Linked DNA regions of Homo sapiens. The protein of the gene in region 1 purifies or fractionates together with the protein of each later gene. This does not show direct contact. Each region holds a gene or a part of one and is shown in the gene's direction. Other genes may lie near its edges. The genes, in order: MICALL2, NUBPL, splicing factor U2AF 35 kDa subunit-like protein, NAA30, NDRG2, PON1 and PDHX.

Evidence for each region.
Region 2: the proteins of MICALL2 (region 1) and NUBPL purify together in Homo sapiens (affinity purification with mass spectrometry, with the first as the bait; one large-scale study listed by BioGRID). This does not show direct contact.
Region 3: the proteins of MICALL2 (region 1) and splicing factor U2AF 35 kDa subunit-like protein purify together in Homo sapiens (affinity purification with mass spectrometry, with the first as the bait; one large-scale study listed by BioGRID). This does not show direct contact.
Region 4: the proteins of MICALL2 (region 1) and NAA30 purify together in Homo sapiens (co-immunoprecipitation; one large-scale study listed by IntAct). This does not show direct contact.
Region 5: the proteins of MICALL2 (region 1) and NDRG2 purify together in Homo sapiens (co-immunoprecipitation; one large-scale study listed by IntAct). This does not show direct contact.
Region 6: the proteins of MICALL2 (region 1) and PON1 purify together in Homo sapiens (affinity purification with mass spectrometry, with the first as the bait; one large-scale study listed by BioGRID). This does not show direct contact.
Region 7: the proteins of MICALL2 (region 1) and PDHX purify together in Homo sapiens (affinity purification with mass spectrometry, with the first as the bait; one large-scale study listed by BioGRID). This does not show direct contact.

What each region holds. Positions count from the first base shown.
Region 1 is NC_000007.14:1,442,471-1,445,970, reverse strand, and holds part of MICALL2 (MICAL-like protein 2), read left to right. Parts: intron 1-542; coding exon 543-1,319; intron 1,320-1,379; exon of another isoform or gene 1,380-2,394; intron 2,395-3,486; coding exon 3,487-3,500. UniProt on the Homo sapiens protein: Effector of small Rab GTPases which is involved in junctional complexes assembly through the regulation of cell adhesion molecules transport to the plasma membrane and actin cytoskeleton reorganization.
Region 2 is NC_000014.9:31,559,954-31,564,203, forward strand, and holds the start of NUBPL (iron-sulfur cluster transfer protein NUBPL isoform 1 precursor), read left to right. Parts: upstream 1-1,450; 5' UTR 1,451-1,486; coding exon 1,487-1,594; intron 1,595-2,114; coding exon 2,115-2,262; intron 2,263-4,250.
Region 3 is NC_000021.9:6,489,249-6,492,748, reverse strand, and holds part of splicing factor U2AF 35 kDa subunit-like protein, read left to right. Parts: intron 1-456; coding exon of another isoform or gene 457-494; intron 495-551; coding exon 552-618; intron 619-3,500. UniProt on the Homo sapiens protein: Plays a critical role in both constitutive and enhancer-dependent splicing by mediating protein-protein interactions and protein-RNA interactions required for accurate 3'-splice site selection. Recruits U2 snRNP to the branch point.
Region 4 is NC_000014.9:57,407,586-57,411,085, forward strand, and holds part of NAA30 (N-alpha-acetyltransferase 30), read left to right. Parts: intron 1-1,793; coding exon 1,794-1,931; 3' UTR 1,932-3,500. UniProt on the Homo sapiens protein: Catalytic subunit of the N-terminal acetyltransferase C (NatC) complex. Catalyzes acetylation of the N-terminal methionine residues of peptides beginning with Met-Leu-Ala and Met-Leu-Gly.
Region 5 is NC_000014.9:21,019,167-21,022,061, reverse strand, and holds part of NDRG2 (protein NDRG2), read left to right. Parts: intron 1-182; coding exon 183-245; intron 246-1,217; coding exon 1,218-1,278; intron 1,279-1,479; coding exon 1,480-1,566; intron 1,567-2,085; coding exon 2,086-2,142; intron 2,143-2,319; coding exon 2,320-2,423; intron 2,424-2,895. UniProt on the Homo sapiens protein: Contributes to the regulation of the Wnt signaling pathway. Down-regulates CTNNB1-mediated transcriptional activation of target genes, such as CCND1, and may thereby act as tumor suppressor. May be involved in dendritic cell and neuron differentiation.
Region 6 is NC_000007.14:95,304,033-95,307,532, reverse strand, and holds part of PON1 (serum paraoxonase/arylesterase 1), read left to right. Parts: intron 1-1,166; coding exon 1,167-1,248; intron 1,249-3,500. UniProt on the Homo sapiens protein: Hydrolyzes the toxic metabolites of a variety of organophosphorus insecticides. Capable of hydrolyzing a broad spectrum of organophosphate substrates and lactones, and a number of aromatic carboxylic acid esters.
Region 7 is NC_000011.10:34,989,618-34,993,117, forward strand, and holds part of PDHX (pyruvate dehydrogenase protein X component, mitochondrial isoform 1 precursor), read left to right. Parts: intron 1-2,697; coding exon 2,698-2,762; intron 2,763-3,500.

The sequences.
Region 1 (3,500 bases):
TTCTGTGCCTCAGCCCTTCCCACTGGTGTTGTACTCAGTGGCCATCCCCAGCCCCTTGCTGCCACCCTGCACCCCGGGTGGGGGCTCCTAGGAAACAAGCGCTGTTCCCCCTACTTCTGTCCCCAGCTCTGCAAGGCTGGGGTGGGCCGGTCCTCCCAGTTCCATCCCCCACGCTGTGAGGCCAGGGTGGGTCAGCCCCGAGGTGGGGCCTGGGGTGGCCTGTGGGTGTGTGTCTGCTGACCTGCACAAGCACCCTCTGGGGTTTGCACCCCAAACGAGGTTTTTGGTGGGGTTTGTGATGTAAGTGGTTAAGGACCCTGAGAAGAGGCGTTTGTTGAATGAATCAGCGACCTCGTGAGTGGAACACAGGAGTCCGCAATGCCTGCTCTCAGGAGCACGTGGTGAATGCGTGGCGGGGCGGGCGTTCAGCAACCTCGCAAGTGGACACAGGAGTCCGCAATGCCTGCTATCAGGAGCACGTGGTGAATGCGTGGCGGGGTGGGCGGTGCCGAGCTGGGGCTCCTGTGCCTTTCCTCCCCCAGGTGTAAGCAGTGCTCCTGCACGCTGCACTCGGGGGCCTACAAGGCCACAGGAGAGCCGGGCACCTTCGTCTGCACCAGCCACCTCCCCGCAGCCGCCTCTGCAAGCCCCAAGTTGACGGGTCTGGTCCCCCGACAGCCAGGGGCCATGGGTGTGGATTCCAGGACCTCCTGTTCCCCACAGAAGGCCCAGGAGGCAAACAAGGCCAGACCGTCGGCCTGGGAGCCTGCTGCGGGCAACTCGCCTGCCAGGGCTTCCGTTCCAGCTGCACCCAACCCTGCAGCCACCAGCGCCACGTCCGTCCACGTGAGGAGCCCAGCCAGGCCCTCTGAGAGCCGCCTGGCCCCCACTCCCACGGAGGGGAAAGTCCGCCCTCGTGTGACCAATAGCTCCCCGATGGGCTGGTCGTCAGCTGCCCCGTGCACAGCAGCGGCTGCCTCCCATCCCGCCGTGCCCCCGAGTGCCCCAGACCCTCGCCCGGCCACACCCCAGGGTGGGGGAGCCCCCCGAGTGGCAGCTCCTCAAACCACACTCAGTTCAAGCTCCACATCTGCAGCCACGGTGGACCCCCCAGCCTGGACCCCGTCCGCCTCCAGGACCCAGCAGGCCCGGAATAAGTTTTTCCAAACATCAGCAGTGCCCCCCGGCACCAGCCTTTCTGGCAGAGGTCCCACCCCGTCACTTGTTCTATCCAAGGACAGCAGCAAGGAGCAGGCGCGGAACTTCCTCAAGCAGGCCCTCTCAGCGCTGGAAGAGGCTGGCGCTCCGGCGCCTGGCAGGTGAGCGCGTGGGGACCGAGGGACCCCGGGTATGGCCTCTTTGCACCAGCCAGCGGGGCCCCGGAGGCCAGAGGGGTTGGGGGCGCTGCACCTCCCTGGCTGTGTGGCCTTGGGGACTGCACTTCCCCCAGCCTGTTTCCTTCTCTGGGGAATGGGGAGGAGGAGCCAGGGTGGCAGTGCCTGTGGTCAGGGTGGTGGAAGCCGGGTCCTTATGGAAAAGCTGCTGTCCGCATGTGCTCGGGGCGTCATGGGTGCGGTGGCGCTGCCGCTCCGGGGCCCCCTGTGCTGCACTCCCTTGGAACCCAAGGGTCCTACGCCCATTTCATGGACGCGGGGACAGGTCGCGAGCGGGACCCACGCTGGCGGGTCTGAGTGGACGCGGGGACAGGCCGCGAGCGGGACCCACGCTGGCGGGTCTGAGTGGACGCGGGGACAGGTCGCGAGCGGGACCCACGCTGGCGGGTCTGAGTGGACGCGGGGACAGGTCGCGAGCGGGACCCACGCTGGCGGGTCTGAGTGGACGCGGGGACAGGTCGCGAGCGGGACCCACGCTGGCGGGTCTGAGTGGACGCGGGGACAGGTCGCGAGCGGGACCCACGCTGGCGGGTCTGAGTGGACGCGGGGACAGGTCGCGAGCGGGACCCACGCTGGCTGGGCTGAGCATCACCTTGTCTGACTGAGTCCAGCCAGGCCCTGACCTTCCATGCCTGGGCCCGGCGCCTGCCTGTGCCTGGACCCTGAGCAGATGACGTGGACGGGTAGAGGGGGGCGCTGCATCAGTTTCCAAAGACCCCCTCACTGGGCGGCTTACACAGTAGAAATCCACCCCCTCACAGCTCTGCAGGCCAGAAGTCTGACCTTGAGGCGGGGGAAGGGCCGCGTCCCCTTGCAGGGCACTAGGGGTGGACCTGTCCTTGTCTCTTCCAGCTCCCAGCGGCTCTGAGCGTTCTTGGCTTGTGGTCGCCTCCCTCCAGTCTCTGCCTCCGTTTCCATGTGGCCTTCTCTCTGTCTGTCTTCTCCTCTTCTGTCTCTTCTAAGGACATGGTTGTTGGACTAGGGTCCACCCTAACCCAGCGTGAGTGCATCTTAACATGATCATAACTGCCAAGATGGTTTACAGATAAGGTCACACTCTGAGCTTCCCAGTGGACATGACTTTTAGGGGTCACCATTCGACCAAGTACAGTCACTTAGCGAGTAAGAATGCTTGTCGCAGCCTGGCTGACAACGCCGTTTCCTGCCCCGTATCGTGGGGTGCAGGCGTCCCCTGCTCAGAACTGCCTCCTGCCCCCGCAGTGGTCAGCAGGGGGTGCTCAGAGCCTCCGGGGTGGTCACAGACAGGAGAAGAGCGAGTTCGCTCTGCTCCTCCTGGCACTGGGGGGTGTCCAGGGCATCCTAGGGACTGAGGATGAGTGGCGGGGGTGCTCCAGGGAGTGCTTCCTAGGTGGTGGGGCGGGGGGCATGTGTGGCTGGGGAGGACCCCAGCTCCTCTGGGGAAGCTGGCCTGGCACACCTGAGCCCAGTGTAAAGGGAAAGGGGGGAGGGAAACTGGTTGTCGAGGGGGGTGGGGACATGGAGGCACTGGCTCGGGGGTGGGGAGGCACCTGGTGCCCCCACCTCAGGCTCTGGCAGCCTCACTCCTGGTGTGTGCCTGAGGGAAGGCAGGAAGGCACGGAGGCCTTGTGTCTGGCCCTGTGTCTGTGTGTCTGGCGGGGCCAGAGAGACTGTGTCACATGGGACTGAACCTGGCAGCCCAGGCCGGCCCAGCCTCTGACAAAGCCCCAGGTGCCTCCAGCCTGGGTGGGTGGTGTGTTTAGGGGGTGGATATTTTAATCTCAGCCAACACTGGATTTCACAGGGGAGGAGAATCAACCACAGCATATGCTCATGCCAGAAACAGGTGTCTGTGGCCTGTGCCTTGCCAGGGTGGTCATTGGGAGCGAGCTGCAGGGAGGCAGAGGGGCAGCCTGGTGCAATGGTGGGGGAGGCGGAGGGGTGGCCTGGCGCAATGGTGGGGGAGGTGGAGGGTGGCCTGGGGTGATGGTGGGAGTCCGTCCGGAGGCTGGGCATTGGGAGTGAGCTGCAGGGAGGCAGAGGGGCGGCCTCGGGTGATGGTGGGAGGGCGCCTGGATCCAGCTGTGCCTGATGCCTGCGCTTTTACTTATAGGCCCTCCCCAGCCA
Region 2 (4,250 bases), on another chromosome or scaffold:
ATCTCTCTTTCCTTTCCCCACATTTCCCCCTTTTCTATTCGACAAAACCGCCATCGTCATCATGGCCCGTTCTCAATGAGCTGTTGGGTACACCTCCTAGACAGGGTGGCGGCTGGGCAGAGGGGCCCCTCACTTCCCAGACGGGGTGGCCGGGCAGAGGTGACTCCACCTCCCGGACGGGGTGGCGGCCGGGCGGGGTCTGCCCCCCACCTCCCTCCGGGACGGGGCGGCTGACCGGATGGGGGCTGCCCCCCACGTCCCTCCCGGACGGGGCAGCTGGCCGGGCGGGGGCTTTTCTCTCTTCTTTCATCTTTCTTCCTTCTACTCTCTTCTTCTTTCTTCTTCCTTCTTCTTTCTTCTCCTTTTAATTTCCTCTTCCTCCTTCCTCCTTCCTTCTTTCTTCTTCTTCTGACAAGGTGTCACTCTGCTGCCCACGCTGGAGTGCAGTGGTGCAATCATAGCTCACTGCATCCTTGAACTCCTGGCTCAAGCAATCCTCTTGCTTTGGCCTCCCAAAGTGTTGGAATTACACGCGTGAGCCACCATGCCTAGCCTTAGCAGTCCATTTCTAACCTCTTTACAACAATCTCCTTGCCATTCTCCCAGCTAACTTCTACACATTATTCAGATTCAGCATTCAGCTTAGATATTACCTAATTTAGAAGCTTCCCCTGATTGAATTGAGTGCCCTTTCTTTGTATCACTTTGTCCTTTCTCCTGTATCCCTCAATGCTTTTCTCCTGTACTTATCATATTATACCGCAATTTTGTTGTTAACTTATTCTGTCTTTTGCACTGGATTATAAAGCCCTTTAGTGGAGGAATTATGTCGGTCTCAATGCTGAATATTTTAAGTCTACTGTAGTACTCGGTACATAGTAGTTGCTCAACGAATATTTGTTAAATAAATGAGTCTTAAGTCTGGAAGAACTTGCAAAGTTCTTTACCAGGTTGCTGGTAAAGCAACCTGACCTTTCTTTCAGGGAACTGTCAGCAACACAAGCCATGAATACCAACGCAAAACAGACTCTCACTGTAGATCACACGGGAAAAAATAAAATAAAAAGGTAAAATCCTTAACGGTGGTAGTATTTAAATGACCATATACTGCTTAGTAAGAAATCCTGGGGTCATTTTCAAGGTCCCCCATTTCCTACTTTTGTTAAGCTGGGTCAAGTCTCTTTAAACTTTCTCCGTTTTCTTGTCCATAAAAAGAGTATACTAGGTAAGTCTTCTGTCTACCTCGGGACTTCTGTAAGTATCATAAGAGATGTTTTATATGACAACACTTCACAAACGTTTAGTAAAACGCTGCAAAATGTTTGTAGCTGGCTATAAACAAGATCATGCAGATTGGGTTCCTGAGCCAACAAACCCAAAGAAGACCGGTTGCTAGGAAGAGAAAGCCGAGCGTTGCTCCGTGACGTCATCACTCCGCGCCACCCGCGACAGTTTCCCAGCAGGGCTCACAGCAGCGTTCCGCGTCATGGGGATTTGGCAGCGTCTGCTGCTTTTTGGTGGGGTGTCGCTCCGGGCTGGTGGCGGGGCCACTGCCCCGCTTGGGGGAAGCCGAGCGATGGTTTGTGGGCGCCAGGTCCGTGGTGCTGCAGGGCAGGGGGAAGCGGGCTGACAGATGCTGGGCTGCAGGGCCGCAGATGCCCTGGCATTGCTTCTTGCCAAAGACTCGCCTCAGTTCCTGAGACCCCCAGTGTGCTGGACGTGCCTACTTTTCAGGCAGGCCCAGGCTGAGGCGTGGCGGGACTTGAAACACAGTTAGAACGTAGATGTGGTATTCTACATTGCTTTCTTGGCTTTGGGTTATTTATCAAATAGATTGAAGAAAAGCAAAACACGTGGAAGCCTTATCTCCGTAAAGAGGCAGCGTTTTTACATTTTTAAACGTTCAGCGTATCCTGCTAGAAAAATTTCAATTTAAGCAATGTGTCTTTACAATTGTTATCAGTAGTAGTAGGTAAATGTCTCCATAGTGAAGATGAGCAGAATTAGAAAAGAAAGCCCTCTTAATTGCAAACCCCAGATTGTTTTTGCTTTTACAGTGTGATGATGGAGATGGCTTATTTAAAACGGCTTTTTATTATTATTATTTTTTAAAGTTGTCTGGCGCCGGGAGTGAGACCCTAAAACAAAGAAGAACACAAATCATGTCCCGAGGACTTCCAAAGCAGAAACCGATAGAAGGTGTTAAACAAGTTATAGTTGTGGCTTCTGGAAAGGGTGGAGTCGGAAAATCTACTACAGCAGGTATTATAGGATATTAATTCTATTCCTGATTAAGAACTTATGCCAACAGACAAGTGCACACTATTGAAATTATAGTTTTGTGTTTTAAAAATTTATTTGTGAAGTTCCTAACATGTGATTCCTTAGTTTCAGGAGTTGGTAGCGGGTAGACGCTTAGATTTTGGAGTTAGACAAAAGTAGGTACTAGCCGGGTCTCCCACCCCTTAACTCAGGAAAAAGTGGTCAGATTGTACAGCAAATCTTCAGTTCACTTAACTGTAAAATGGAGATAACTTCTTTCATAAGATGGTTATTCAAATTGCACAAGCTAACCACTTAGCTTAGTGTTTACTAGTGTTCAATAATTGGTTGCTGTTATTTTTAAAACATCTAGTAACTTTTTTTTTTTGTTTTTTTTTTTTTTTTTGAGACGGAATCTCGCTCTGTCACCCAGGCTGTAGTGCAGTGGCGCAATCTCGGCTCACTGTAAGCTCCGCCTCCCGGGGTTCACGCCATTCTCCTGCCTCAGCCTCCCAAGTAGCTGGGACTACAGGCGCCCACCACCACGCCCGGCTAATTTTTTTTTTGTATTTTTAGTAGAGACGGGGTTTCACCGTGTTAACCAGGATGGTCTCCATCTCCTGATCTCGTGATCCGCCCGCCTAGCCCTCCCAAAGTGCTGGGATTACAGGTGTGAGCCATCGCGCCCTGCCTACTAGCTCATTTTTCCCCATTTTTATCAGAAGGGAATTCTGGAAGAATTTGTCAGATGTTTTGGAAAAGTTAAGATTTACCAAATATTGTATTTGTGGTGGATCACTAATCCATTACTATTTGATAGATACCATATTGTTAAAAAAAATTAATAATCTGTTCTTAATGAATTCATGTGCTCTCCTGCACATTTTTCCTTTCTTTCCTAAAGGTTTACAATCCATCTGGTTGTTTTTAAAATTTAGAAGCTCTTAGTTTTTGGTTCTAGAACCTTTTGGAGTACATTTTTCAGTTTTCAGTGGTTTGAATCCTTTTGCATGCTCTGTGATTACTTGAACTGGATAAGGATGGAAGGTGTTTTCATGATTGTAGCCATAAGTTCTTTGCGTTTTGTAATTTGTTGGGTCTGTAGGCTGGCACTTGTTTAAGATTGTTTGTTTATTATTTTTAGTTGGAAGATGATTGTTGCCATGAAATGTGAAAGCATTTAAACAGGAAAATGTATGAGAAAGTGTACAACATGTGACACGTAATGGGTGCTTCAGTAAATGTCCCTTTCTCACTTTTTTTCTGTTAACATTATACCATCTGTCCCGAAAAGCTGGCCCATACTTTTTCATAACAGCTCTGTGAGCATATCTAAGTCTTAAAAATAGGTTATTTTTATGTAACTCTATTGGTATTATTAATATATTTCTTTTCCTTATATGTATTTATTCCTGCCTCAAACTACTTCAAAATACTTCCCATTTGAATATACATGCTAGAGATGTTTTAGATTAGAATGATGACATTTGACTAATGCAAATATGCTCAGTGATTCTATTGTTTAAATGTAGGAAGAACCTAACTCTAAAATGAATTGCCCTCTGAAAGTTTCTGCCTTAAAGTTGTATTATGTGTAACCTATCTTGTACCTGAAATTCAGAATTTTGTAACTTATAAAAACGAATTTATCAAGTCTTTGCCCTAGGCTAAGTATTTTACATGCAATATTTCGTTTAATCCTGATCACAGTTATGAAGTAGGCATTGTTTTCATTTTATAGAAGAGAAAACAGACTTATGGGTAAAATAACCTACTCAAGAGTACACAATAGAAGGTGGCAGAGCTGGGATTTGAACCAGGTCTGCCTTAAAAATTTATGCTCTTAACTAGTTTTAAGAAAATAACCCTGACATAGTTTATACCATTGTTCTGTAAGGAAATGTGATTCACATTATGAGCGCCTATTTGTTGATCAGTCTTTGAATTGTGTTACTCTTCTCGGATGTAGCATATTCCTATTGCTGGTC
Region 3 (3,500 bases), on another chromosome or scaffold:
TACAGTGACTGAACCCCTGGCCTTTATTAAGTTCTTTGTGTAAAATTAAAACTCTTAGGAATATTAAGGAATCAATAAGGTAAGTTGCCCAGTAAGTGTGGGTTTTATTTCACCATTATAATTTTTCCTCCAGGAAGTGGAGATTTCATGATATGTAACAATTGTATTTCTCTAATACAGTAATTTTTTCCATCAGTTTATGTAAGCATTATTCTTTCCGAGTTCATTAAAAATTTTCTGCCACATCTAAGAACATTTTGGTGCTAGCCTGGCAAACTATTTGTGCTTTTACCTGAATTGGAATTTTGAAAAGGAGAGTTTTCACGTTCTGTAAGCAGAAGTACAAGATGGGCATATCATGAGACCTCCGTTACACCGCAGTGTTAGGGATTCAAGGCAGCCGCCAACTGAGAAAACGCCTCTGCTTCTCCAGAAAATAACTTGCTCTCTTTTCAGCACTGAATCTCAACTGAAGCACTTGCCAGAGGCAGCCGGTTAAGTGTTTACCTTTAATTTTCCATAATATAAAGTTGTTGCGTTTTGTATTTCAGACCATTGCCCTCTTGAACATTTACCGTAACCCTCAAAACTCTTCCCAGTCTGCTGACGGTTTGCGCTGTAAGTTCATACAAGTTCCTTCCCCGGTTCCCTGGGCTTGCGTGTCAGAGCTCAGTGTCCACTCCATCTGGTCTGCCGTGCTAGTGTCAAGGACCGCGTTTCACTAGAGGTGGCAAGGAGCTTTCGTCCCACTGACCCCATGGAAACCTCTTTTGGAGATTTGAACTCCCACCGTGTGTTAAAAGGGAAAAAGTAACTGGAAAGGGTGCCCTTTAAAACAGTCTAGAGCTGGGCCGGGCGCGGTGGCTCACGCCTGTAATCCCAGCACTTTGGGAGGCCGAGGCGGGTGGATCATGAGGTCAGGAGTTCAAGACCAATCTGGCCAACATGGTGAAACCCCATCTCTACTAAAGATACAAAAATTAGCTGGGCGTGGTGGCAGATGCCTGCAATCCCAGCTTCTAGGGAGGCTGAGGCAGAGAATCGCTTGAACCCGGGAGGCGGAGGTTGCAGTGAACTGAGATCGTGCCGCTGCACTCCAGCCTGGGCGACAGAGTGAGACTCCGTCTCCAAAAAAAAAAAAAAAAAAAAAAAACCAGTCTGGAGCTGCTGCTGCCCCTTCTTCCTTTACTTTGGCCGTCATCCTAGAGGGAATGTACTGGAATTAAACGTCGAGTCATATTCTTCCCTCTTAGAGCAACAAAATTTGAATGTTTCTCTCACTTTCTGGAATTTTTAAAAAGCAAACTTTTTAAGTTATTTTTTCAGATTTTATTTCTCATTAGCCTTTTTTCCTTGAACTCCATTTTGGAGTGCACCCTGTAGTTGTAAGAGCATTGTGCTGAGAGCGTTCCCCAAATGAGGGTCTGCAGCTTGCACTGACCCCTGAGTTCCTCACCCACCAGCCCCGTGCCGACCCGTCTAACCCGTGTGGGGGTGCTCCACTCAAATAGGCCCTTGGCAGAAAAGATTGTCCGTTCTGTCCACACACTGCCTGGATACAGTCTCCAGCTCTAGGAGATGGAATTGGTTTGCTCCATTTAGAAATAGATCAAAACTGGGCATTCAGTAGATGGTACCAATATCTTCCTGTACTGGGAAATACTAAATTTAGATTGTGAATATTTACCTAATGATAATTTTTAGAGAAGGAGATATCATAGATGAGTATGATTGGGAAGTTCAGAAAACTAAAATTTGATTTTTACAGCCATCCAACTATAGAATCATTAGAATTTAGTCATTTATGGATAAATTAAAATGAACACCTGGACTCTTGTTAAAATCAGAAAGTCCAAACCAAAGATAGGCACTTCCCATTCACCATTCTGTTTTAAAGCAGTAAAAATTGAGGTGCCCTTGGATATCCACAAGCCTAAATTGAGTACACCCTTGAACCAGAGCCCCTCAGTTAATGGGGTGACCGACATGGGGTAGCTGATCCCAGGGGGCATTCCCCTCTCGAGCTGGCCCTGCACTGGGTGGCCTGGGGATTGTGCTTCCTTGCACAGTGGTGCACATTTCTATGTGTGGATGAGATTTTCTTGTCAACTTTTCCTGCCAAGACACTAAATGCTTTTCAGTGCTAATACTGACCTGATAGTAGAGATTTCTTTCCCTGAGTCGGATGGTAGCAGGATTTACTTGGTAACCCTTGGTTTAAAATACCTGTTTTTTTGTTTGTTTGTTTTCTTTTGTTTTTTAAGGAAATAAGATCAATAGGCGGAGGGAAATTGTTTCTATATGCACTTATTAAATAATTTTTGTTAACAACCCTGCCCTGGGATAAAAGTGAATGGAAGTACATGACTGAGTAACAGTAATTAATTCTTTGCCCTGATCGTTTATTTGGGGACTGTATATGCTTTCTTGACTGACAATAGAATGTTGTATTAGTTTTCATTGTGTCTTTATTTGCAGTTCACAGCACTTTTGTTTTCCATATGCTACAAACTAAAAGTTTAGCAATTACGTTATATTCCAATTCTGGAGTCCAGATTGTACAAATTAGATGAAATTCTAATTCGTCATTTTAGGAAGAAATCAATTACCTAAAATTACTGGCTCTTTTCAACATACCCTTTAGTATGTAAAAAAATAAGCTTCAAATGCGTGGGTTAAAGTTAACTATCAATCCCAGTTTAAGAATGATATTTCTGTAAGAAAACTGCTTTATTTTCCAAGTTGTAGTATTTAACATAGGCTGAGTCACAAATAAGTTTTTAATTGTATCTTAATGCAGTTGTCTCTGCCTTTCAAGTCACTTTGATTGAAACATTTTAAGCAGAACAAATATAGCCAATAATTTAAAATAATCACCCCAAAACCATTTCTCAAACCTGCTAAAACTTTGAGCATGTGAATAATTTTCTCCTCTTCACATTCTTCTTATGTGGGAAGGAAGTGAATTTGAAATATTAAAATCTGCCCTTTGGAATAGGCTACTTTGGCCGTTTATAACTTGATTTCTACTCGGGGAGGAAGGTACATTCCCAATAGCTTTCCAATTGGGATATCCTGTGATATGATTGGCAGGCTGTCCGAGTAGTTACACTTAATAAAATTTGGGTTCGAAAGCAGATTCCTGGAAGTTCAAAAATAATTAAAACAGCCCCGGATAGGTTAGAAAGTGAACTTAAATCATTCTCAGAATTAGAAAATAAGAAGTTATTTTTTATCTTCAAAGATAAAAAGGGGGCCGGGCACGGTGGCTCACACCTGTAATCCCAGCACTTTGGAAAGCCGAGGCAAGTGGATCACGAGGTCGAGAGATTGAGACCATCCTGGCCAACATGGTGGAACCCCGTCTCTACTAAAACTACAAAAATTAGCCAAGATCACGCCATTGCACTCCAGCCTGGAGACAGTGAGACGCTGTCTCAAAAAAAAAAAAAAAAAAAGATAAAAAGAGTTTTGAGCAAGCTCAAAGACCCGTGTGCCAG
Region 4 (3,500 bases), on another chromosome or scaffold:
GGGTTCCAGAAACTGAAAATTCAGTGTTGAGCATGGAAAGCAAGAAGAGAGAGACCTAAAGCAAAGCTGAGGCCAATATATTGATGGACTTTTTATGTCTCTTGATATTATTTTTAGATTGTGGACTTTCTCTTGAGGACAAGAGGGAATCAGTAAACGGTTTTAAGTAGAGAATTAACAAGAGCATCACCCTAACTCTAGAGAGAATGGGAGACCTCTTGAGTTAGGAGGCTCTTGTAATTATAGTGAGAGTTGATGGCAGCTTGGACTGTGGTATATCGAGCATAGAAAGAAGAGGACCACTTAGAGATTTAAGAGGGAGAATTGACAATAATCAGTGCTTGGATGCATATAGGTGGTTGGAGAGGAATGAGGTTCAAAGATGACTCCTGGGTTTCAGGTTTGAGGCATTGGTGTGGTGGGGGGTGATCCTGTTTACTGAGATATGGAATTGAGGAGGAAGAGCAGATTATGAGTTCAATTTTGGATATAAGTTGAGGTACTGTCTTTATTATTTGCATCAGTTGTTTGCATTCTTGTCAGACTTTTTGATAGCTTGAGAAAGAACAGGAAGAGACTTATGCTTCACTTGGGCCTTTGTTTAATTATACTTTGCCATTTCCCCCCCACCCACTCCAAACACTTGAGGGTTATGACACCCAATAGTAACTGTGGCTCACTGTGTTGATAGTTCTCAATGAAATAAGTTGAGAAACAATTGAAAAGGCAAATAGAGCTACGTGTGTAAAAGTTGGGAAGATGGGGTAGAGGGTGTTAGAGGGAGGTAAAAATAAAATCGCAGTTTTCAAAAATACCAGTTATTCATTGTCAGGGCCACTGGCTCAGTAATATTTCAAAAGACTTAAATGAAAGTTAATACTATGTGTTCCTCTGTTAAGCTTTGCTATATAGACCAGTGGTTCTCAAAATGTGGTCCCTTGACCGCAGCAACATCATCATCTAGCAATTTAAAAATATTAAAAATGCAGATTCTTGTGTCCTACTGCAAACGTACTCATAAACTCTGAGGGTGGGGCTCAGCAATCTATTTTAACAGACCCTTCAGGTGATTATGATACACTGTAACATTTTGAATACCTCTTGTCTGGATTCAGCAAACTTTCTTGGTAAAAGGCCCACTAGTAATTATTTTAGGCTTTGTGGACCATAGGTCTTTGTGGCAACTGCTCAGCTCTGCCCTTGTATTGAGAAAGCCACCACAGACATCATGTAAACAAATAAACATGGCTGTTTGACTAAAACTTTATTTACAAAACAGCAGGCACATTTGGCCCAAAGTCTATAGTTTGCAGACTCTGGTCGAGACTCCAGACAAATATGGTAGTTATTGCCAGAATAAATGACATATTAATGAAAATACAGAAGTTGGAAGTCAATCTGAATAGCTGCTTATAATAATATAGCTTATTATTTTAAGGAAATAAACCAGCACTTTTGATTGTTGATTTTATTTTCATCTGTAGTCATTTTACCTTTCCCCACAGGGAAATAATTAATCTTTGTTTTAGTATAAAACATACTCTCATTGCTAAACATTTCAAACTACACAAATCAGTAGAACAGAAGATAAATCTGCAGTGGTCCTCCAAGCCCTTGACCCAAATATAATATTACAATCTTGATGACTGTTTTTGAGTTCTTTCTGTATATTATTTATTGTTTTCACTATCAATTTTTAAAATAATGTATGATTTTTTAAAAAATTGTTTAGTTGGTAAATTATTTTTTAAATTGTGTAATTATAACTTAGTTTTTTTCTCATTTCTTTGAAGGTTGTTTTGGAAACCGAAATAACAAATAAGTCCGCTTTGAAACTTTATGAAAATCTTGGTTTTGTTCGAGATAAGAGGCTGTTCAGATACTATTTAAATGGAGTTGATGCACTGCGACTTAAACTGTGGCTGCGTTGAGAAACTGACATCAAGGAACAACTATCATCCGCACAGAATCGACCTTTGCATGCAATGCAATTTGTACAGAATTGCTTTGCAGGTGGATTTAGTAATTTCCATGCAGCTCTTACCTGTCAGTGTCTCATTGAGTGTCGCACAATATTTGTTGCACTTTGGCATGGCACATTTGTTCTGAATTAAAAGATTGTTTTAAACTTCAGGAGTTCTTTTGGTACCAACAAGATGTGCCAGTTGATAGCCAAGATTTATGTGTTCATTTGCAAAGTCTGCTGACAATGTTATTTACACAGTGATCATTTTATCACAGAACCAGTAAGTGGAACATAATTTTTGTTCCTTAAAAAAGCCAATGTGGATTGTAAAAGTCTTTAAGTATACTAACATTTCACACAAAACCTGCCCTAGTTTTCTGAAGTGGGTGAGGGAGACGCTTCAGTTTTAGGTTTTATTTTTTCAATATTAAATTTTCCATTCTTGAATATTGGTACCTCAGTGATTAGTGAATGAAAAAAATGTAGGGTGGGTATGTCTTACAATGAGTAAAGGTAACAATTAAATTTTGTCTGCCAGTGCCTGTGTAGATAAGTATATTTGTCTTCATCTCTAGTTTTTGAATGCATGCTATCTTTTCCTTTTCTTTAAGGCCTTTGCAAGCAAACTTTTGTTTTTATTTAAATTCTAAATTTGATAAATTATTTCAGATTTTTATAATTTGGATACTTTTTTCAGGTGAATGAAAGAATGGTTTACTTTAGAAGTCCCTTTTTCCTTACAGTAACAAGTTGAATCTACTTGGAAAATTGAGAAATGGCTCAAAAGAGATAAGAAAAGTTGATGGAGCCGGGAATTGCTGGGGTTTAGATGCACTTTTTCTTTTGAGAGTAAGGGAAGTTTTGGAAAAGAATAGAAAATTAGTGTAAGTTGATATGATTTTATTTAATCAAAATTACTGCTACGCTGCGAAGAACAGCTTTTACAAAGTAGCTGAATTTGTTTTTCCCACTTGATTTGGATTCACATTGCTTTCATTTCTTAAAATGCTTCACTTCAGGTTCTTGGTCTTGGAAATAAATTTCAAGGTGCATTGTATCCATTTTAAGCTGCTTTATTTTATTTTCACTTGTATGAGCAAATTCTTGGGGGAGCTTTGCTTTTCTTCTGCCAGAAAAACAAAAGGGGGAAATGAAAATCTTTTTTGGAATGAGTTCTGTGGGTTTTCTTAACAGCCACCATGTTTATTAGTTACATTGTGTTTTGGCCAATCAGTGCAATGTAACAAATTTTACAGTTAATTGCTTTCAATTGAGTCAGTAAACCTGTGATAGATAATTTATTTAACTGGAAAACCTAGGTACCCATAAGAAAAAAGATTCATTCTCTGTGAAAACTGTAGGAATCTGTTGTTGTTTTCATTTGAATATGCTCTACTTCTGCTCTAGTATTTGGTTTGGAATATATTTTGTGGCTCTAATTACTGTATTTTTAAAAACCCTACCTCCATTAACAGTTGGTAAAGGCCCCTTTTCAGGAAAGTTTGTTGCTTTTTTTTTTTTTTTAAAGGAAAGC
Region 5 (2,895 bases), on another chromosome or scaffold:
GTAAGAGTTAGGTCGTTACTGCTTCACCAGACTGTGAGGAACAGGACAGGTGCGGGAAAGGTTCGACTGGGGAGGAGGAAAGGGAGGGCAGTGGTTATTCTGGGAGAGAATGAGTAGGACATCCTGAGGTGGGGGGTGTGAGGGCAGGTTGGTATCTTCCTTAACATGCCTCTCTTTTCCAGATATCAGTACCCATCTCTGGACCAGCTTGCAGACATGATCCCTTGCGTCCTGCAGTACCTAAAGTGAGAGGCCTGGGAACCCCTCCAAACCAGAGTTCTCTTTCCAGCACAAGGAGACCCTTAGAACTTCCAGGTTCACCGTGGTTCCTGAGCCAGTTTCAGCTTCTGAACTCAATATATCTTCTTCCTTCATGCTCCCGCCTTGATTATTGAGAAAAGGTGGTGGGTTTGGAAAATTGGCCAGAGTCAACAGAATAGCCCTAATGGGTGGAGGGAAGGAAAAGGGTCTATGCTTGGCCCTGCCTCAGGCTAAGGAGGGCCTTCTCTGATCAGAAAGTCAGGGAGGAATGAAAGGGGGTGACATAATCCCTGAGGAACCAGATAGACCTGTCTCTTTCTCTCCCACTCCCCTCTCCTTCATGCCCACACCTGGTGGATGGGGAGCTCTGCGGGTGAGAGAGAGTTGGGGAAGGAAGAGAACACCAGACCAAGTGTCTTTGGTATTCAGAGGGAGGTGCTGGCCCCTGGGTGCTGTTCTTAGCTAAGCTTCTCCTAGGCACCAGGGCTCAGCAGCTCTGGTTCACCACTTTGCCACTCTTTTCCTCATTCTCTCCATTGTTCACTAAAATTGTGTCTGTTTTCACATTTGCTTTAAGTTCCATTCTTCCCGTTCCTCTAGAGGAACCAGGAACTAAAGCAGAACAAGTTGAACTGGCTCTTGAAAATTGAGAATGGACAAAGAGCTATCTATATGGGAAAACAGTGTGTTGGTTGGCTGGTGGATGGGTGTTTGTTTTTAAGACACTAGCTCTCCAGCAGAAAGCTGGGGATAGACTTCAGGTATCTACCCTGACTACCCGTGCCAACCTTTGGCTTCTTGGGCCCTTCTTTTTCGCGTCCTCCAAAGAAAGGTCCGTGTCTGCCTTTCTTTGTGCCCGTGGACTCAGGAGGGAGGGTGAAGAGTTTGAAGAGATGGGCTGTGGCAGGTTTTGGACAGCAGATCCCATGAGGCGTATATTTCTTTCCCTTTCACAGTTTCTCTACAATAATTGGAGTTGGTGTTGGAGCTGGAGCCTACATCCTGGCGAGATATGCTGTAAGAAATAAAAAGCCCAGAGGAGGGAAAGGAGGGTCCAGACTGATTAGGAGAATACTGTTTATTAGTGCTGTTTGGGGGAGGAAGTGGGCACTAGGTGGGGAGTCAGGCCCTGTGGGAGTCCAGGAGTGGGTCGAGCTTAGCGGGGAGGGGATAAGGCCATGCCCTGTTTCTCATTTCCTTCCTTCTGCTGTCCCTCAGCTTAACCACCCGGACACTGTTGAAGGTCTTGTCCTCATCAACATTGATCCCAATGCCAAGGGTTGGATGGATTGGGCAGCCCACAAGGTTTGGAGGGGCCTGTGTGCTGAGACCTACGGTTGGGGATCCCCTCGTATGGATCCAGTTAGGCTCTGGTAGATAGCCTAACTGGATGGACTCTGAACTTCAAGGAGGGAGTAAAGGGGCAGGAAAGTGAAGCTGTCACTTTGCCTGAGTCTCTTATAATATCCTGAACTTTCTTTTTCTTTTTCTTTTTTTTTTTTTTTTTGAGATGGTGTCTCACTCTGTTGCCAAGGCTGGAGTGCAGTGGCTTGATCTTGGCTCACTGCAACCTCTGCTTCCTGGGTTCAAGTGATTCTCCTGCCTCAGCCTCCCAAGTAGCTGGGATTACAGGCACCCGCCACCACGCCTGGCTAATATTTGTATTATTAGTAGAGATGGGGTTTCACCATCTTGGCCAGGGTGGTCTTGAACTCCTGACCTCGTGATCCACCCGCCTCGGCCTCCCAAAGTGCTGGGATTACAGACGTGAGCCACTGTGCCTGGCCAATACCCTGAACTTTCTCACCTGCCTTCTCCTCATAGCTAACAGGCCTCACCTCTTCCATTCCGGAGATGATCCTTGGACATCTTTTCAGCCAGGTAAGTGGGTGTAGGAGATGTAGAAGAGTCGACGGGAGCAGCAGGGAACTTGAATGCTTGGGCTAACTTCCTTAGCTGGGACAGGATTTGGGGAAGGAAGAAGGCTTACCTCTTTTCCTCCAGTAATTGTTGTTTTCTCTTTCCATCCCTAATTTTTCTCCTTGTTCTCTCCTTCAGGAAGAGCTCTCTGGAAATTCTGAGTTGATACAAAAGTACAGAAATATCATTACACATGCACCCAACCTGGATAACATTGAATTGTACTGGAACAGCTACAACAAGTGGGTGGGCTGTGTGTGTATGCATGTGAGAGAAATGCAGAAGCAGTAATTGGGCGTCATGGGGGAGGCACAGAGGAGGAGAGGGAAGTCTGGGTAGTGTGCAATGTGCAAGGAATGCAGCATTTAGTGTGCAATGGGGGCAGCTTCAGGACAGAGTCAGTGGGAAGGATTGCAAGGGGCTGTCCCCCTTCTCTTGTTTACCTCCTTTGGATTATTGGACTCCCAGAAGTAAGATGATCTTGTGTCCTGTGTCCTTCCTCCCCTTTTGTTGCCCTCTGACCAGGGATCTAGGGCACAAGTGACTATAGGGGCTGTGCTTGGGGCCTGCCTGCCCCTTTCTCCTTTGGTTTCCACCTTTAATAACCAAGATTTGACCGTAATTTTTAGACAAAGATAGTTCCATCATGGGAGAGATAGCTTATATCTGGTTAGATAGCATTGCCCACCTAAAATTCCTACTCTTTTAACCCCT
Region 6 (3,500 bases), about 94 Mb from region 1:
TATCTCATGGTGAGCTATAACAAACAATTTGCAAACCAACATTGGTCTGGAGACTGCATTTTGGGTAGCATTGGTATATACATGAAATATCTATATCCATCCACATATATGCCCTTTCTCATCTTGTGTCATCATCAAGGATTTTAGAGTCCGTAACATATGCTTAGAGAAAGCAACAGGGGCCAGGTGTGGTGGTTCATGCCTGTAATCCTAGCACTTCGGGAGGCCAAGGTGGGTGGATCACCTGAGGTCATAGACCAGCCTGGCCATCATGGCGAAACCCCATCTCTACTAAAAATACAAAAATTAGCCAGGCGTGGTGGCGCACTCCTGTAATCCCAGCTACCAGGGAGGCCAGGCAGGAGAATTGCTTGAACCTGGGAGGTGGAGGTTGCAGTGAGCTGAGATTGCACCACTGCACTCCAGCGTGGGTGACAGAGCAAGACTCTGTTTTTTTTTAAAAAAAAAAAAAAGAAAGAAAGAAAGAAAAGAAAAAGCAAGCAAGCAAGCAAGTGAGAGCAACAGGGACAGGGACAGCTTTTAATTATTCATATCATAGACCAGTTTTCAAAAAATAGAAGATAATTGAGCAGTAATTTCTTTTTTTTGTTGGGGGGATGCACAGTGCTTAGACTAACCCCAGATCTTTGTGGGGTATGACTAAAGCCACAGGGTCAGGACCACACTCAGGGCAGAAGAGGAGGAAGACTTCTCTTGATCCAAGCCAAGCAGCTTTTCTTCTCTCATATTTTCTCTGGATTAAAACAAGGGGCTGTTGTCCAAGGGCTTTCCTGCAACTTTCCCGAGAGAGAACTCACTAGCCCCTGAAATGCAGAACCTGGGCCTTGACACTAAATTGTCAAACCAAAAGAGAAACGCTGTAATGCATTTTACTCCCAGATACTAAAAGTTAGTGTTAGGGCTAAGTTCCTCCCATACTGATAAGGACAACTATGTCCCCTCCTTCAGAAACAACTTTTCAGAGATTAAACCCCTCTGTCACTGTAAACTCACTGAGTTCTTTCAGAATTTGGTGTGTTTGAGGTGGGTTCCATTTTCCATTCCTTAAGCAAAGTTCTTCCCTATGAATAGGTATTACAACTTCATCTTAATCTCTCAAGTTGTGTTACTTCTAGTACTTTGATGTAGCTCTTTCTTCTTTGAAGGTATGTCTATATAGCTGAGTTGCTGGCTCATAAGATTCATGTGTATGAAAAGCATGCTAATTGGACTTTAACTCCATTGAAGGTAAGACGTATTAACACTGTAAGTCTGCAGAGTGATAATTAGATTCTAATTGATTTGTGAAATTAAATGTGAAGAAAAAAGGACTGCTTAATTGGGGTGGGTGAGAACCAATTTTTCACTCCTTTATTAAGAGTCATTAGCTTGGTTATGTGTTTGTTGTTCATTTTTACTCAACTGCAGAGTGGCAAACAGCAAACCCCACCTCTTACCCGTGAACCTTGCATTCTTTCTGCTCTAGCAAATTTTAAGCTTGGCATTGTGTTCCCAGATCCTCCTTCCATCCCTCCCTTCCTGCCTTTCTTCTGATCTCCCTCTCCTCCACCTTCCTTCCCTCTCCTCCCTTTTCTTTCTCTTTTTTCCTCTATGTTGATGGAACAGCCAAGAAATAGCCTCAAATTGTACTTTATGCAGGGCTGCTCTCCACAATGTTTATGAAGTCCACGTGCTCACGATGGCTGCTAGGTGACCTGGCTGCCCCTCACCTCTCTGCCTTTACCTCCAACCATTGTGTCCCTGCCCCACGTCTCCTGCCACTGTCTCAGAACGGGGCACCATTCCCTCTGCTAGGAGGAGAAACCTTCCTCCAGATCTCCATGACCCCCTCCTTCATCTCCTTTCATTTTTACTAAAACGTCACCTCGATCTTCAAAACCTGGAACTGCTCCCTCCCGCTACGTATTTTCCCTCGCCTTTCCTGCTTTATTTTTCCATTCAGCACGTATTGCTAACATACTATATATTTTATTCATACCCTTTATTACCTGATTCCCCAACTAGGGTGTAAGCTCCACAAGGACAGGCTGTTTTTCTATTTGCTTCTGGTACAATTCACATTGACTAGTTGGCACTTAACAAATACTTGTTAAATTACTGCGGTGGGGCTGGGCATGCTTCAGGGATTCACCTGCTGCCCCCACCAATTCTGGTCATCTGAAGGTTGGAGTCAAAATGGGTGAAAACACAAAGGAGAGGAAAAAGAGACCAAGAGCAAACTAGAGCCCTAAGAAAGCAGCCCTCTACCTCCGAAAAACAGCAAGACGTTGCTTTCCTGCCATAAACGCCCACTGCAGGAAGCACTGTCAGCGCCAATTGTATGACTGTTCCTGTCAGCACATCTGAGAGACTGTCATGAGGGGCCTCACTCAGAGAAAATTACCTTAAAGCAACATCAAATGTAACATCGTGTTTGACATTAAAAATCACTGGCAGGGCTAGTTTGGTATTAGCTCAAGTAAAATGGAATTTCACACGCTCATACTGGCTAAGGGAATAAAAAACAAGCTGCGGTTTTAACAACAGGTATTTCTGTAAAACAAAAGTTAAAGAATTTTATGAGAATAGAACCCAATGTAACAGACATTCACCACAGAATGTCAAGGCTCTGCTCTCACCAGGGTGAGACTGAGGGCAAGGCCAGTTTCAGCAACAGACCAGGCCTGTCTCCCATCATGAAAACCCCAAAAAGGTTCTCCATCAATTGTCACATTATTCTTTCTTTTGAAAGACCGTATTAATTAATATCAGTTAATTAATGCCCGAGAGTGCCAAGTAATTTGATAAACTAGCTGAGGCTATTCTTAAATTTGTGATGAGGTGTGGATGGGTTTATGTCCAATTGGATATTGTTCAGCCTTAAAAAGGAATGAAGTTCTTGGCCGGGTGCGGTGGCTCACACCTGTAATCCCAGCACTGTGGGAGGCTGAGGTGGGTGGATCACGAGGTCAAGAGTTCAAGACCAGCCTGGCCAATATGGTGAAACCCCGTCTCTACTAAAGGTACAAAAAATTAGCCAGACATGGTGGCACATGCCTATAATCCCAGCTACCTGGGAGACTGAGGCAGGAGAATCACTTGAACCTGGGAGGCGGAGGTTGCAGTGAGCTGAGATCACACCATTGTACTCCAGTCTGGGCAACAAGAGCAAAACGCCATCTAAAAAAAAAAAAAAAAAAAAAAAGGAATGAAGTTCTGATACCTGCTACAACATGGATAAGCCTTGAAAAACATGATGCTAAATGACATAAGCCAGCAACAAAAGGATAAATATTGTACGATTTACTAATAGGAAGTACCTAGAACAGGCAAATTCATGGAGACAGAAAATAGAATAGAATGGTGATTGCTAGGAACTTGGGGGAGAGAAGAATAGGGAGCTATTGTTTAATGGGTACAGGATTTCTATTTGGGGCTGATTAAAAGTTCTGGAGAGGGATGGTGATGATGGTTGCACAACATTGTGAATATACTTAATG
Region 7 (3,500 bases), on another chromosome or scaffold:
CAGTACACACTTCCCTCTGATCGTCACTTGGCTGGCTTTTTTTCATCATTGGTTTCTCAGTTCAGTTGCTAATTTCTTAGGCCTTCTGCAGCTTCTGTAGCTGAAATAGTTTCCTAACACTCTTTATCTCATTACCCTGTTTTATTGTCTTCATATGGTTTATTAGTCTTTGAAATTACCTTGTTTATTTATTTGTTCACCCTTCTGTGTTCCCTACTGTCTGATGTTCACTGTCCATTGCCATTTATCTAATTCTAGAAGAGTGCTTGGGATACAGTAGTTGCTTGGTGAATTTATTTTAAAACAAATTTCAGTAAAACTTGTTTCATTGAAATTAATTTTTCAAGAGTTTGTGGCTCTCTGCAGATTCATCCATGAACCCCAAGTTAAGAATATCTGTACTACGCATTTACTTCTTGACCCTCTGTAATCCCAAGGATGCCACTGTGGGGGCTGTAGGCATACCCCAGCCAAGTTCAAGTTGGTATTCCTTGAATAAAGTAATGTAGTGACACACCTTGGATCCTGTGTTATTCTTAATTCTTCATTACTTATAACAGTATTAAAAGGCAGAGGCATAGTTTACCTTATAAGTACCCAGTAAATTTTTTTAATGAATAGCAAGGCATTCGATGTATTGTAGAAATATTTAGTGGTCATTTTTTATTCTTTCAGCTGGATGCTTCAGGTAACATGTACTTTGATTTTGAGTCCACATTGCCAGGAGATCCCAGTGATGATTACAAATTTATAAAACCAACGATCCTTCTCAGATTCCATACCTATTTCAGACTTACTAGAGTTCACTGACAGGAATTTCCTGTTGATGTATTTAGGATCTACAGAGTTTTTGTTTTTAGTATGTGTGCGTGCAATCTACTTATTAAAGTGAGTTTTTTTCATTTGTGGTAATTGTGTGGTAGTTCATCAGGATATGTTGAGATCATCTGCCTTTAAAAAATGCCTTTTAAAGTTCATATATGTGTCTTTTCAAATCATGTGAACAATTACATTGCTTAAGGGAGGAAAAATGCTTTTATAGATTATTCTCTCTCCCGTTATTCCAAGAACTGTATAAGTCAAAATTCATCTCATTTTTTACCTTGAATCCAAATAGTTTTATAAATAACCACATCCAAATAGCATACACCTGTAATTGTTTCTGTTGGCAGTACGTTACAGTAATGTGTTTTTAGATTTTTGATATTTTTAAAGACTTTCAATTTTAAAAAATTAAATCATCTATGAATTAAAGTTAGTTATCAACTGTGATTGTAATAGTGCCTATGTTGCCTATGTAATACAAAATATTAAGTAAATTCCACATTTATTTTATCTACCCAAATGACAGTGACCTCATTTTTCTGTACCCTTCCTCTTAAGTTAATTCGTTATTAATTTTTTATATATGATGACTCAACCTCTGTTCCCTTGCTTTTAAGCACTGAAAAATAAAAATTAACAGAAATGTGGTTAATTCCAAGTACAAGTGAGAGGAAAATTTAACTAATATGTCATCTGTCTTGTCTTCTGTAAGATTTTTAGAAATCGCTGTGGTCAAGAGTGATATGAATCAAGTACATCCTTATATTCCTTGTGGCAGTGTAAATTGGACTAGCTCATTCAGGAAATGATTTAGCTATAGGATCAAGAACCAAAAGAAGTCTATTCTCTAGGGCACTATAATTCCACTTCTGAAAATTTACCTGAAATAATTCAGAAGAAACCGTGAACCAAATTATAACACTGGGAAATAACCAAGTAAATTAGGCAGGTGCAGTCTTTAGGAACAAACATTAAAAAATCATTTCTGAAGGCTGACAACACAGAAGATACATATAATATTGAACAATTAAATATAAAATTTATTTTTTATAACCATTGTGTGGGGTTGAGATTGTGGATAAAGATGAAGCAAACTCTGAAAGATAAAAACGGAATGTTGGTTGTGGGATTGTGGGTATACTACTTTGGTTGCCATTGGATAATTTATTTAAAACACACAGATTGGCCAGGCATGGTGGCTCATACCTGTAATCCCACCACTTTGGGAGGCCGAGGTGGGTGGATCACTTGAGTTCAGGAGTTGGAGACCAGCCTGACCAACATGGTGAAACCCCATCTCTACTAAAAATATAAAAAATTAGCTGGGCGTGGCGGTGGGTGCCTGAAATCTCAGCTACTCAGGACGCTGAGGCAAGAGAATTGCTTGAACCTGGGAGATGGAGGTTGCAATAGGCCATAATCACACCACTGCACTCCAGCCAGGGCAACAGAGTGAGACTTCTCAAAAAAAAAAAAAAAAAAAAAACTAAAAAACACTAGATTGACCAGAATGGATTCTTGTATTTTTTTTCTTACCATAAAGTTTTATAGGCAAAATAGAAAATTTCATTTTGCATATAGGAAACTCTAAAGCATTTTGCATAATAATTGATGGTACACAGGGTAATTCCCACATTTGAAAAATTGTTAAAGGAAGTGATTTTTCTAGAGTTTTGATTAACAGCTTTAGTTTCTTGAATTATCTGTGCTCTTGTTTGTTCTTATAATTAGAGAAAATTATTTTTATATAGGTAACAAAATCAAATCAAGGCATATCAGAGATGAGAGTATATGATGTACAAATATTTCAAGTGACAAGATCAACTGTATAACATTTTGTTGGTTGTCCTATTCTGTTTGTATTTTTCTCAGGCTCTATCAAAGAAAGCAAGAGATGGAAAATTGTTGCCTGAAGAATACCAAGGAGGATCTTTTAGGTAAAATTTAAACTCTTAATTATCCATAGCATCAAACAGATAGATGTAAGACTTATAAAGTCCCTGTCAGCCTTTCATTTATCTGAAATATTTTTTAAAATTTAAGCTAAAAATACTTTATTTAGACAATAGAATATCTGAAAAAATTCTTCAGACTAGTCAGGCTTTCATATTAAAGCTAGTAGGAACCTATTAGTGTTGAACTAAACGTTCGTTGGACATTGACTAACATGGAATGATAAATATTATGTATTCTTTAGTATCTGACCCACCCCCAATATTAATGTCTGTAATATTATATTGCTATGTGAAACAACCACTTATTTATTATTGCAGCATATAATATTCTATTGTATAAATATACCAGAATTCATTTTACTGTTGGTGGGCATTTGCGTTGCTTCCAGTTCGGGGCTATTACAAATTATGGTGCTATGAACATTCTTATTAGTGTCTTATAGTGAATGTATGTACATTTTTTGTTGTATAGACCTAAAAGTAGAATTCCTAAGTTAGAAGCTTTAGCAGCTACTACCAAACAATTTTCCAAATGGTTATACAAATTTACACCTCCACCAACGGTCCTGAGAATTCCCATTGCTCCACATTCTTGCCACTATTTAATAATGTTAGGTTTTAAATTTTAACAATTCTTGGGGTGTGTAGTGGTACTCTTTGTAGGAAAATGCAAATTAGTGATGTTGAGTACTTTTCACTCATCAGCCGTTTGGGTATCTG